Regions from separate parts of the Homo sapiens genome. Here region 1 is linked to region 2. The links come from fine-mapping of genetic effects on gene expression. A gene starts in region 2. The other region holds a variant in brackets. All regions are shown on one strand. Distances are between the middles of the regions.

What was found. PIP is the estimated chance that this variant, and not a neighbour inherited with it, causes the effect.
Region 1: its variant is fine-mapped to the expression of LIMD1-AS1 in testis (GTEx, PIP 0.95).

What each region holds. Positions count from the first base shown.
Region 1 is chr3:45,655,348-45,660,726 of GRCh38, reverse strand. All of the region lies in intron 2 of LIMD1 (LIM domain containing 1), which reads right to left. Among named protein-coding and RNA genes, the nearest start is that of LIMD1-AS1, 31 kb to the left of the region's middle. The variant T/C (reference allele first, on the strand shown) is at 2,094.
Region 2 is chr3:45,686,010-45,691,388 of GRCh38, reverse strand. It overlaps LIMD1-AS1 (LIMD1 antisense RNA 1), which reads left to right and starts at 2,507. Exons shown (of 3, transcript NR_033947.1): 1 at 2,507-3,013. It overlaps LIMD1 (LIM domain containing 1), which reads right to left. Exons shown (of 8, transcript NM_014240.3): 8 at 5,048-5,379. SACM1L (SAC1 like phosphatidylinositide phosphatase) reads right to left here and starts at 1,993. Exons shown (of 20, transcript NM_014016.5): 1 at 1,892-1,993. The coding sequence starts at 1,923. TRR-ACG2-1 (tRNA-Arg (anticodon ACG) 2-1) reads left to right here and starts at 2,318; the gene lies at 2,318-2,390. RefSeq lists a silencer at 1,802-1,981 and enhancers at 2,012-2,301, 2,562-2,611, 3,122-3,191.

The DNA.
Region 1 (5,379 bases), 31 kb after region 2:
ACAGCCCACCTGGCCGGGCGCGGTGGCTCACGCCTGTGATCCCAGCACTCTGGGAGGCTGAGGCTGTTGGACCACTTGAGATCACGAGTTCGAGACCAGCCTGGCCAACATGGCGAAACCTCATCTCCACTAAAAATACAAAAATTAGCTTGGCATGGTGGCACGCGCCTATAATCCTAGCTACTTGGGAGGCCGCGGTAGGAGAATCGCTTGAACCTGGGAGGCGGAGGCTGCAGGAAGCTAAGATCGCGCCATTGCACTCTAGCCTTTATGACAGAGAGAGACTCCGTCTCGGGAAAAAAAAAAAAAAAAAAAAAAAAAGACAGCCCACCTAAGAGAAGCTTGCTCAACCAGTAAGCAAAACTATTCACACACTGTCTGATCACAAAGTCCAAATCTTTACTTGTGGAGCTCCCCACTTTCGCCTCTTCCTTCTCGGAATTCCCGCAGGGTAAACTCATTCCTCAAGAGAGGAAAGAAGGTGGGGCTGCAGTTGCGGATGGGGCCCCTAGAGGGAGCTAGGAGGCCACCAGGAAACGGCGCAGGACTTCCAGAGCTTAGGCTTCTGATCCAATGTATGGAGAACACAGCAAACAGCACTTTGGTTCCAGGAATGGGGTTAGCAAGTTCTAAGGAATCTGAGCTGGAAATCAACGTTTTGTGTAATAGGGCGAAGATCACCTCTATTCCAAAAATCACAGAGGAAGATCATTGAACATGCAGAAGCACTGAACCCTCTAGTGTTAAGAAACAAATTAAACGAAAGCTTTTTCATCCAGGAGATCAACAAAGATTTTTTAAGTGTTTGTGATTGTTGTCACTGTATATTTTCATAAGCTACTGCTGAGAGTGTAAGATGATAAACTCTCCCTGGAAGGGAAACTTTAAAATGTTTATCTCTGACTCAGTGAGGTTATCTGAGACTTAGCTTTGGGAAAGAATTTTAAAAAGTGAATAAATATTTACTTAGATCCAAACTGGCAGCCTTAGAGGAATGGTTATATAAACCAGAGTACATATAAATGATGAAATGTTACATAGCTATTTAAAATGTCATTTAAATAGTGTTTTAGTCATATTGGAAAATGCTTATATATAGCATATATATATGTTTGGGGATAGCATATATATATGTTTGGGGTTTTTTTGAGATGGAGCCTGACTCTGTCACCCAGGCTGGAGTGCAGTGGTGCAATCTGCAGCCTCAGCCTCCCAGGCTCAAGGAATCCTCCCACCTCGGCCTCCTGAGTAGATAGGGCTACAGGTGTGCACCACCACAACTGCCTAATTTTTGTATTTTTTTGTAGAGACAGTGTTTCGCCATGTTGTCTAAGGCTAGTCAACAACTCCTGGGCTCAAGTGATCAGCCCATCTCAGGATTACAGGTGTGAACTACTGCACCCAGACTGAAAATATATTAACAAGTGAAAAAAGCAAACTTGACAAGTGTATTTATAGTACAATTCCATTTCAGTAATTTGCAGATACCACTGATATGCAAAAGGGAAAAAAACAAACAGTGGGTAACACTGGTAGAAGTATAACAGTGAAACATCACTTTCTACTTTATATACTTTAATATTTTAAATTTTCTTTCTAGTATTAGGTACAGTGACAGATGGTATTAGAGAGAAATTTCACTTTACTTCACATATTTCTATATTAAATTTTTCTAGAAATATGTATAATATGAAAAAATACTTTTAATCTTAAAAGAAAACCCTTATGTTATAATGTGAAAAGTAAAAAGCAAGATTTAAAAATTGTGCATCTCAACTATATAAAGAAATTCAAAGAAAAAAAGACTGGAAAGGAAATCTGCCCATGAGTGGCAACGCCTCTGAGTGGACATATTTAGAATCTGCATGGTGAGGCCAGGCACGGTGGCTCATGCCTGTAATCCTAGCACTTTGAGAGGCCAAGGCGGGCAGATCGCCTGAAGTCGGGAGTTCAAGACCAGTCTGACCAACATGGAAAAGCCCCCTCTCTACTAAAAATACAAAATTAGCCAGGCATGGTGGTGCATGCCTGTAGTCCCAGCTACTCAGGAGGCTGAGGCAGGAGAATCACTTGAACCCAAGGAGTGGAGATTG[T/C]GGTGAGCTGAGATCACACCATTGCACTCCAGCCTGCAATGAGCAACATGAGCAAAACTCAGTCTCAAAAAAAAAAAAAAAAAAAAAAAAAAAAAAAAGAATCTGCATGGTGGAGGGGATGGTTTATTTCCTAGTTGGTTGCTTCTATATACTTTCCTACACTTTCCCAAAGATTTACCAATGAGCAGGTATTGCTCTGATCATTTAAAAAATTGCCCAGCTGGCTAGATAAGTCCTCTTGCTGCCAGTTCCCACAGCTGAGAATTCCCATGTCCGGACACAGGAGGCCAGTACAGGGGGTTGGGGGACTACGTCTGATTTTCCTTTATTCCAAATTTTAAAAAACTGAGACTCCCCCACTGACCTAAGAGGGTGGGGCTTAGTTTGCTCTGAAGAACTCACACTTCATTTTTCACTTCGGTTTTGAAAGACCACCTGAGGTTAGAAACTGGATAGTGTATCAAAATATATTTGTTTGTATTCTGAGTGGGAGAAAAGCCTAACATCTACTGATTGTCTTCTGTGGTCTAAGTACTATGTTTAGGGCTTTCACATATATTTTTAAATGCTTGAAAACTTTGCCACACAGGTTACTGCATCACTCCACCTTCTGACCCTGTACTGTCACATGCCTTTTACGGAAGAAACTCACAAAGTCATTTCCTACTCAAAGCCATCACCTACTCCAGGTTTCAGTGAGCGTAGAAAGGGTTCAGTAAAGAGTCGGGCAGAAATAAAACACATCACATGTCAATGTCATGGAGCAGTACAAGGATACAGGAATTGATTATTTTTGGGAATCACTTGAAATCACACCCAAGGATTACTCCTAACTTTCTGGAGTAAAAATATGATACTTATGAATTACACATTATCGTTTTCATTTCATAAGTAAGGAAATTGAGGCTTACCCAGGTAGTAAGTGGGCAGGATGGGAACCCAGATTTGTCTGACTGTGAAGACTGTGCTTGTTCCACTGCACCATGAGGCCATGCAGCAGTATTTAATGCTTGTTGGATGCACACCTATATGCAGAATCCAGTTTCTCTCTTCTGCCAGGAAATGGGACAGGCCTTTCTTTCTTTTTCCTTTTTTTTTTTTTTTTTTTTGAGACAGCGTCTTGCTCTGTTGCCCAGGCTGGAGTGCAGTGGTACAATCATAGCTCACTGCAGCCTCGAACTCCTGGTCTCAGCAATCCTCCCGCCTTGGCCTCCCAAAGCGTTGAGATTACAGGTGTGAGTTACCATATCTGGCCGGAAAAGGGAATTTTCATTCAAACACTTTCTAGGTACTGGGCCTTTTACTTGCCTCATGTCTCACTTAAGTGTCATGAACAGCTCCGTAAAAACTCCTTGTGATGACAGGCATTTAGATGTAACTTGATAGGTAACCTTCCACTTGGAGACAGGCTAAAGTTTGTATCTTTGGAGAAAGGGGGTTGCTGAGAGGAGGCTGAGGCCAGGTAGGAAACAGCAAGCAACCTGGTGCTGAGAAGCAGGGAGGCAGAAAAGGTATTCTCCAGGCTGAATCACCCCAGATTTGGCCAATGAAACAGACGCCAACTAACCTGAAAATTCCTGGAATCACTGCCACTGTCCTGAAAGTTCCAATCAAGAGCAGGATCCAGAATCCTCCTTATTGACATTTAAGCTAGAGCACCCAACCGCCACTAGGTGGTGCCAAACCACAGCCAGGACAAGGACAGGTTGAAGCAGCACAATTTACCCCAAGCCAGCCAGCCCTGGAGGCCTGCTTGAGTCATTTCATTAATCTTGCAATAATGTGCCCTGACGTTTGGGCAGTTGAAACTCACTTGTCGGCTGGGCGTGGTGGCTCACGCCTGTAATCTCAGCACTTTGGGAGGCCAAGGTGGGCGGATCATGAGGTCAGGAGACCAAGACCATCCTGGCCAACATGGTGAAACCCCGTCCCTACTAAAAATACAAAAACCAGCTGGGTGTGGTGGTGCGTGCCTGTAATCCCAGCTACTCAGGAAGCTGAGGCAGGAGAATCGCTTGAACCCGGGAGGCCGAGGTTGCAGTGAGCCGAGATTGCACCACTGCACTCCAGCCTGGCGACAGAGTGAGACTCCGTCTCAAAAAAAAAAAGAAAGAAAAAGAAAAAGGAAACTCACTTACTATATTACGGTTGAGTTACTGATGCTTTTTTTTTTTTTTCTGATGGAGAAACAAAAGCTAAAGAGGTTAAATTCACCTATGTAGCTAAAAGTTAAATAGAAAAGTTGAGATTCGAACCCAGGTCTCTCTTGTGCAAAGTCAACACTCTTTCCACCACACTATACTGTCTCTCTTGTTTTCTGTTCCAAAAGGAATATCTCTCAGACTAAGGGGAATGTCTTAGTCATTTTAGGCTGTTAGAACAAAATACCATAAAGTGAGTAGCTTAAACAATAGACATTTATTTCTCACAGCTCTGGAGGTTGGAAGTCCAACATCAGGGTGCTAGTAGGGTCAGGTTCTTGGTGAGGATCCAGTTCCTGATTTACAGATGGCTGTCTTCCTGCTGTTTTCTCACATGGTGGAAAGGGAACTAACTACATCTCTGAGCTCTTCTTATAAGGACACTAATCCCATTCAGGAAGTATCCACTCTCATAACTTAATCACCTCCCAAAGACTCCACCTCCAAATACCATCATGTTGGGATTAGAGATTCAACATAAGGATTTGTGAGGGGGCGGTATAAACGTTCAGTCCTTCCAGGGAAGTAGATGGATTTCCTGGCATTCCCAATTAAACTTCCTTCTGCTCCCTTGAAGAGGCAAATTTCACTGTCCTCACTGACTTGTTATGGCGGCTCATACGTAGAGACGTAACACTAGGGAGCTGCTGCGGCTTTGGCAGAGCTAATAAGGACAGAGGACAAAATGGAATAGCCGAGGGATAAACACCAAAAACTTAGGTGGTTCTCAAACCTTAGCATGCTTCAGAACCACCAGGTGAGTTTGTTGAAACACAGACTGCTGACTTAGTAAGTGTGGGAAGGGGCCCGAGACTCTGCATTTCTAGTTAAGTTCCCTAGTGATGCTGATGGTGCTAGTCCAGGGACCACACTTTGAGAACCACCAAGTCAGACTATGCCTCAGGCTTGTCTCTGAACTGGCACTTCCATTTGATGCTGTTCATCTTGGTCAAAAATGCTAAGACCTAAACCATCCCTGAATAATCAGCATCAAACATAAACTGGGGGTGGGAGTGTCAGTGTTACATCTTTATAATTCTAGTTTCAGAATCGTCCTGCTTCCAGTAAAGGAATTCCCTCCACTA
Region 2 (5,379 bases):
AAAACCTTCAACAGCAGCCTCAGAGCAGGAAGGGCCAAAAGGAAGGAATAAAAATGGAAACTCTAACTCATAAACCCCTTGGTAAAGAAAAAGGTGCAAAAAAGTTGTACCTTCACATTTACAGAAACACTCTAAACTTTTTTTTCAGGGGGAAAAAAAGCTAGGACTGACAAATGAGAGAATGACTTTCACATAACCCCAGTTTGACTTTATCACCCAAATAATTTAAGAGTTTCCACTTCTCACAAAAATCAATACAAAAACATCATTCTTACTACTTCAGGGACAAATTTCCTTTCTCTTTTATGTATGCGAGGATTTGGGTTTGTTTTAAGGTCTGAACTGGTTAAATTTAGTGTTCTGGCAGCTGAAAAACAATCATCATAATTCTCAAGTTCTCCATCCTATTCAATCTTTGCCACGCTAAGCTGCATGAAGCCATGGCTCCATATGGCTTAAACACATTTGAGACCTGGTGTAGGATCACATTAAACCCTTCAGTGCCTATCAGATACACAATAACCTAATTAGCTAGCAGAGCACATGTGACAGTGGCCTGGCCAGAAACGCAGTGGAAGACACTTCCTTCAACTCTTTCACCAAAGACGAGGTGAGCACTTTGCAAAGGGGAACTGGGAGAAAATAGGGAAAGGTGGAGAGGAAAATGTGGAGGGAAGTGTGCAGCTAGGGTTTTCAAAGAACATTACAGTAAACAGAAATGGCACCCACAGGGGGTGCACTGTAGAAAAAGCAATCATCTTTTTTGCAACACATACAATGTGGAATAGATGACCTCTCTGAATTTTGCACCTCTAACTTTCCACTGAACCTTTCAGAAAGTTACTAGTGAGGTTGAGGTCTGAGGAGCTTAAGTGCCCAAACCACATTTTGGTGTCATTTCCCTGCAAAAGAAATGCGGTATCTATGCCTAACTGCCAAGGTATTTTAGCTCATATACAGGGATAGATAAGCTTCTAAAAAATTACATTTGTTTCTCCTACCAGATATTCCCAGGCTGTGGCCACCAGATTTTCAAACAGCCTAGGGGTAAAGCATTAAACACGAAGTGAGTACAACAAAATTATTCACAGACAAGAAAAGTGTGGATGCTAATGGGTAACACTAAGGGAAATAAACACATGTTGTTTTTAATCCAAGACAAACCAAAACCCTTAAAAACACCTATTTTATAACTCTTAACAACCACAGCCTCTGTATCAAAGACTCAAGAACTTGGATTTACCGAAAAGTCAATTTGCAGTACCAAAATTACCGAGATTAGCCTCTGGCTGTCGACACTGACTTAAGAACCTGCTTTAGGCTGGAGCTGTTTAAAATTTAAACCAAAGTAAACTCCTTCAGGACCTTAAGACTACTGACTGTACTTTAAATTTTTTCTGCACACTGAAGAGGGGGCAGGCAGGCTTCGGTACCCAGATAGGCTGTAAGCAAAACAAAGATTTGTTGATTTGTGCGTAGACTCTAAATTGCTGCTGTAGGTCCGTTAAGTAAGAGAAAACTCTTTTTCTCTGTTAAGTCATACAGATAAATTTAGTCGGTAGCTCTGCATAGAAAGTGGGGACAAGCGTGCCCTGAAGGGCCGCATCATAACGCCGACCCCGGCTCGGTGGGGGCCAGTCGGCAGCTTCTCTCTTCAGCCGTGGGCGCTGGGGCCGAGCACGGTGGAGAAAGGCCGGCGAGCCGCTGGTTCCCGGCCTATGGCTACTCGGGCGAGGCCTAGGAGAGGCCGCGCCGGCTGAGGAAAACCGGTAAATGCGAGGAGCTCCCACACCCTATCTGCAATCCGGGACTCAGAAGCCCTCCCCGAGGCCAGGGCCCGCACCTGCCGCCCCGCCCGCCGCGCCTCAGGCCTCTGGCCCGTGGGACTCACAGCTTCAGCTGCTCGTAGGCCGCCGTCGCCATCCTGCACAACCACCTCCTTCCTTCTCTCTCCGCCCGCCCCGCCCCGCGCCGCCACCTCGGCTACAACTCTACCGGTCACCCTGGCACAGCGGCCGCAGCTCCCAGCCTCTTCCCACCCCTTTCCCCGCCCCGCAGGAGAGCCGGCCTGAACGGGAGGCGGTGGAGGACAAATTAGTGCGCAAGCAAGAGCACGCGAGAGATGCCGCCGACGCGGCGGGTTGGAGTGCGACGAAGAGCGCCGTGACGAAGCCGCTGCGGATTGGTGGGGCGCGTTTTGGGGAAAGGCAGAGCAGCGGGAGCGCGGCGCAAGGGCAAAATGGATCGTTGGTACCCGGAAGCCCGTTCAAACTGTATAAGGGTGATCAGCTATCACGGAGAAGGCTTTAGCAAGTCGGGGCCAGTGGCGCAATGGATAACGCGTCTGACTACGGATCAGAAGATTCTAGGTTCGACTCCTGGCTGGCTCGCGATGTCTGTTTTGCCACACTTGACCCATGTACTACTGGGTCTTGTAAAGATGTATATTCACAATGTGAAAGTATTACAAGACCTTGGAAAGGTGTATGGTTAGAATGTGAAAGTTAAATATCTGAAATTTTGATGCCGCTTTGCTCACAATGTCATCCTTTATCCTTTAAACCTGGAGTTGTCTGAGGTGGTTTGCAAACTGCAAAGCGCCCTGTTCCCAATGATGCACCTGAGAAGTCTGTAAATGGGGTAAATTTAGGCAAACACACCTGGAAAAGTGGCATTTTGGAGTGGGGAATGCTGTGGCCGGAGGTTAGCAACCGGATGATGCAAAAGCGTATTTAAGGCAGCAGTTCTGGCCTTTCCCCGCCACGGAGCAGAAGCCCCCATAGTGATGTGAGAAGCGGCGCTGTCCCAGTTTACTAGGATGGGATGGGCTTTGGATCTAACCAGCAGCGAAGAAAACCTGCGGTGCGGCTGCGCTCGGTAGTAGGGGTCCACAAAGCGTCAGAATCTGCAGCAGCCCCGGCCTTTGCGAGCTCCAGCTCCGAAGTCAACCCGGCCCCCAAATTCCACTGGGAAACCTTAAGACACCGGTGTTTTTACCGTAAGAAGACCTCAGGTAATCTAGTATATTACCCCTCATTGTATGGATGCGCGACTTGGACACCCGAGAAGGCGCGAAACGTCTGCGGCCTAAAGGGACTCGAACCGGGGGATTATATGAGTCATCGGACACTGTCCGTTAACCAATCACTCAATCGATCAATTAATTTCCGCAACATAACGTTTTCCCCTGATAAAATTATAGATTTTTAAAATATATAAAATTATTGGGAATATTAACGCGATTCCCACCCTAAATCATTACTATTATTTTTTTTTTCCTTAAAGCCTTTTTTTCTTCTATATTTTTTAACATGGGCATACTTGCACATGTGTTTTTCCAAATTGGGGTTGTACGGAAATGGGTTCCTCATTTTGTCTCCTTACCTTTTTGTCTGAGATTTAAGGTCATTAAATATTCTTTGAAGATATTTCATCAGAGAGCTAGATATTTTAAGCAGAATCCTTATGCTGGGAATTTGGGTGGTTGTCAGTTTAACACCTAGAAAAAATGATGCTGCTTAGGAGTTCGAGACCAGCCTGGGCAACATAGCAAGACCTCATCTCTATTTACTAAATAAATAAATAAATTTTAATTAGCCAGGTGTGGTGGTGTGCACCTATAGTCCTAGCTACTCAGGAGGCTGAGGTGGGAGGATCACCTCAGCCCAGGAGGTTGAGGCTGCAGTGAGCTGTTACCATGCCACTGCACTCCAGCCTGAGCAACAGAATGAGACCCTGTGTTGAATTATTATTATTTTGAGACGGAGTCTCGCTCTGTCACCCAGGCTGGAGTGCAGTGGCGTGATCTCGGCTTACTGCAGTCTCTGCCTCCCGGGTTCAAGCAATTCTCCTGCTTCAGCCTCCCAAGTAACTGGGACTACAGGTGTGTGCCACCACGCCCGACTAATTTTTTGTATTTTTTAGTAGAGACGGGGTTTCACCGTGTTAGCAAGGATGGTCTTGATCTACTGATCTCGTGATCCGCCCACCTCAGCCTCCCAAAGTGCTGGGGTTAGATGTGAGCCACTGTGCCCGGCCGAATTATTTGTCTTACAAATTTCTAGAGGTGGAACGACCAGGTGGACATCTGTAAGGTCCATTTTATGGACATTTTTAAGACTTTTGTTACTTTCTGACTGCCCTCCAAAAAATTAAACCAAAACACACTTCCATCAACAGCACCTGTTTCTCTGTTTTCGTGCATGCTAACCAACACTGGCTATTATAAATTTAACCGTGATTTGCAATTTTCATAATTGGAATATGGAACTTCCTTTTACATGTACTTTATATATTTTCTCTTGATGTATTGAATTTTTTCTTACAAATTTGATTTTTTAATATATTAAGGGTATTAACTCTTAAATACGTTGCAATCTTTTTTCCAGCTTATGATTTACCTTTTCAAAATTTTTTTAACGGCTGGGCACGGTGGCTCATGCCTGTAATCCCAGTGCTTTGGGAGGCCAAGGCAGGTGGATCTCTTGAGGTCAGGAGTTCGAGACCCGCCTGGCCAACATGGTGAAACCCTCTCTCTATTTAAAAATACAAAAATTAGCAAGGCATGGTGGTGTGTGCCTGTAGTCCCAGCCACTCAGGAGGCTGAGGCAGGAGAATTGCTTGAACCTGGGAGGTGGAGGCTGCAGTTGGCTGAGATCACGTCACTGCACTCCAGCCTGGGTGACACAGTGAAACTCTGTCTCAAAAAAAAAAAAAAAAAAAAAATATATATATATATATATATATATATATTTGAACTTGTAGTAATTTTCACTTTATATATTCACACTTACTAATATTTGGTTTCTTCTATTATATGATTTTTTAATGTTTTGTTCTTATGTTGTTTTTACCATTTACTTTAATCCATTTGTCATTTATTTTGTTGCCATTTATCATGATGTAAAGATCAATTAATCTTAAAACCTGACACACTTTATTGAGCAATTACTTCATGCCAGAAACTGCTCTAATTCCCTTACTTGGATGAATTCAATCATTCCTTACAACAATTGTTGTACCTGAGCGAGTTAGAAAAACGCCACACTTTAAGACGAATTAAGAGTCCTTTATTAGCCAGCGACCGAGAGACGGCTAACACTCAAAATTTTCTCAGCCCTGAGGAAAGGGCTAGATTTTCTTTTATACTTTGGTTTAGAAAGGGGAGGGGGGGGTCTAGTTAAAACAATTTTACAGAAATAAAGTAGGCAAAAAGTTAAAAGGATAAATGGTTACAGGAAAGTAAACAGTTCCAGGTGCAGGGGCTTTAAGACTATTACAAGGTGATAGACCCGGGGCTTTGGGCGTTATCAATCAGACGAATTCCTGGGAATTGCGGATATAGCTTGCCACAGTATCTTATCAGTTAATTGCATTCTT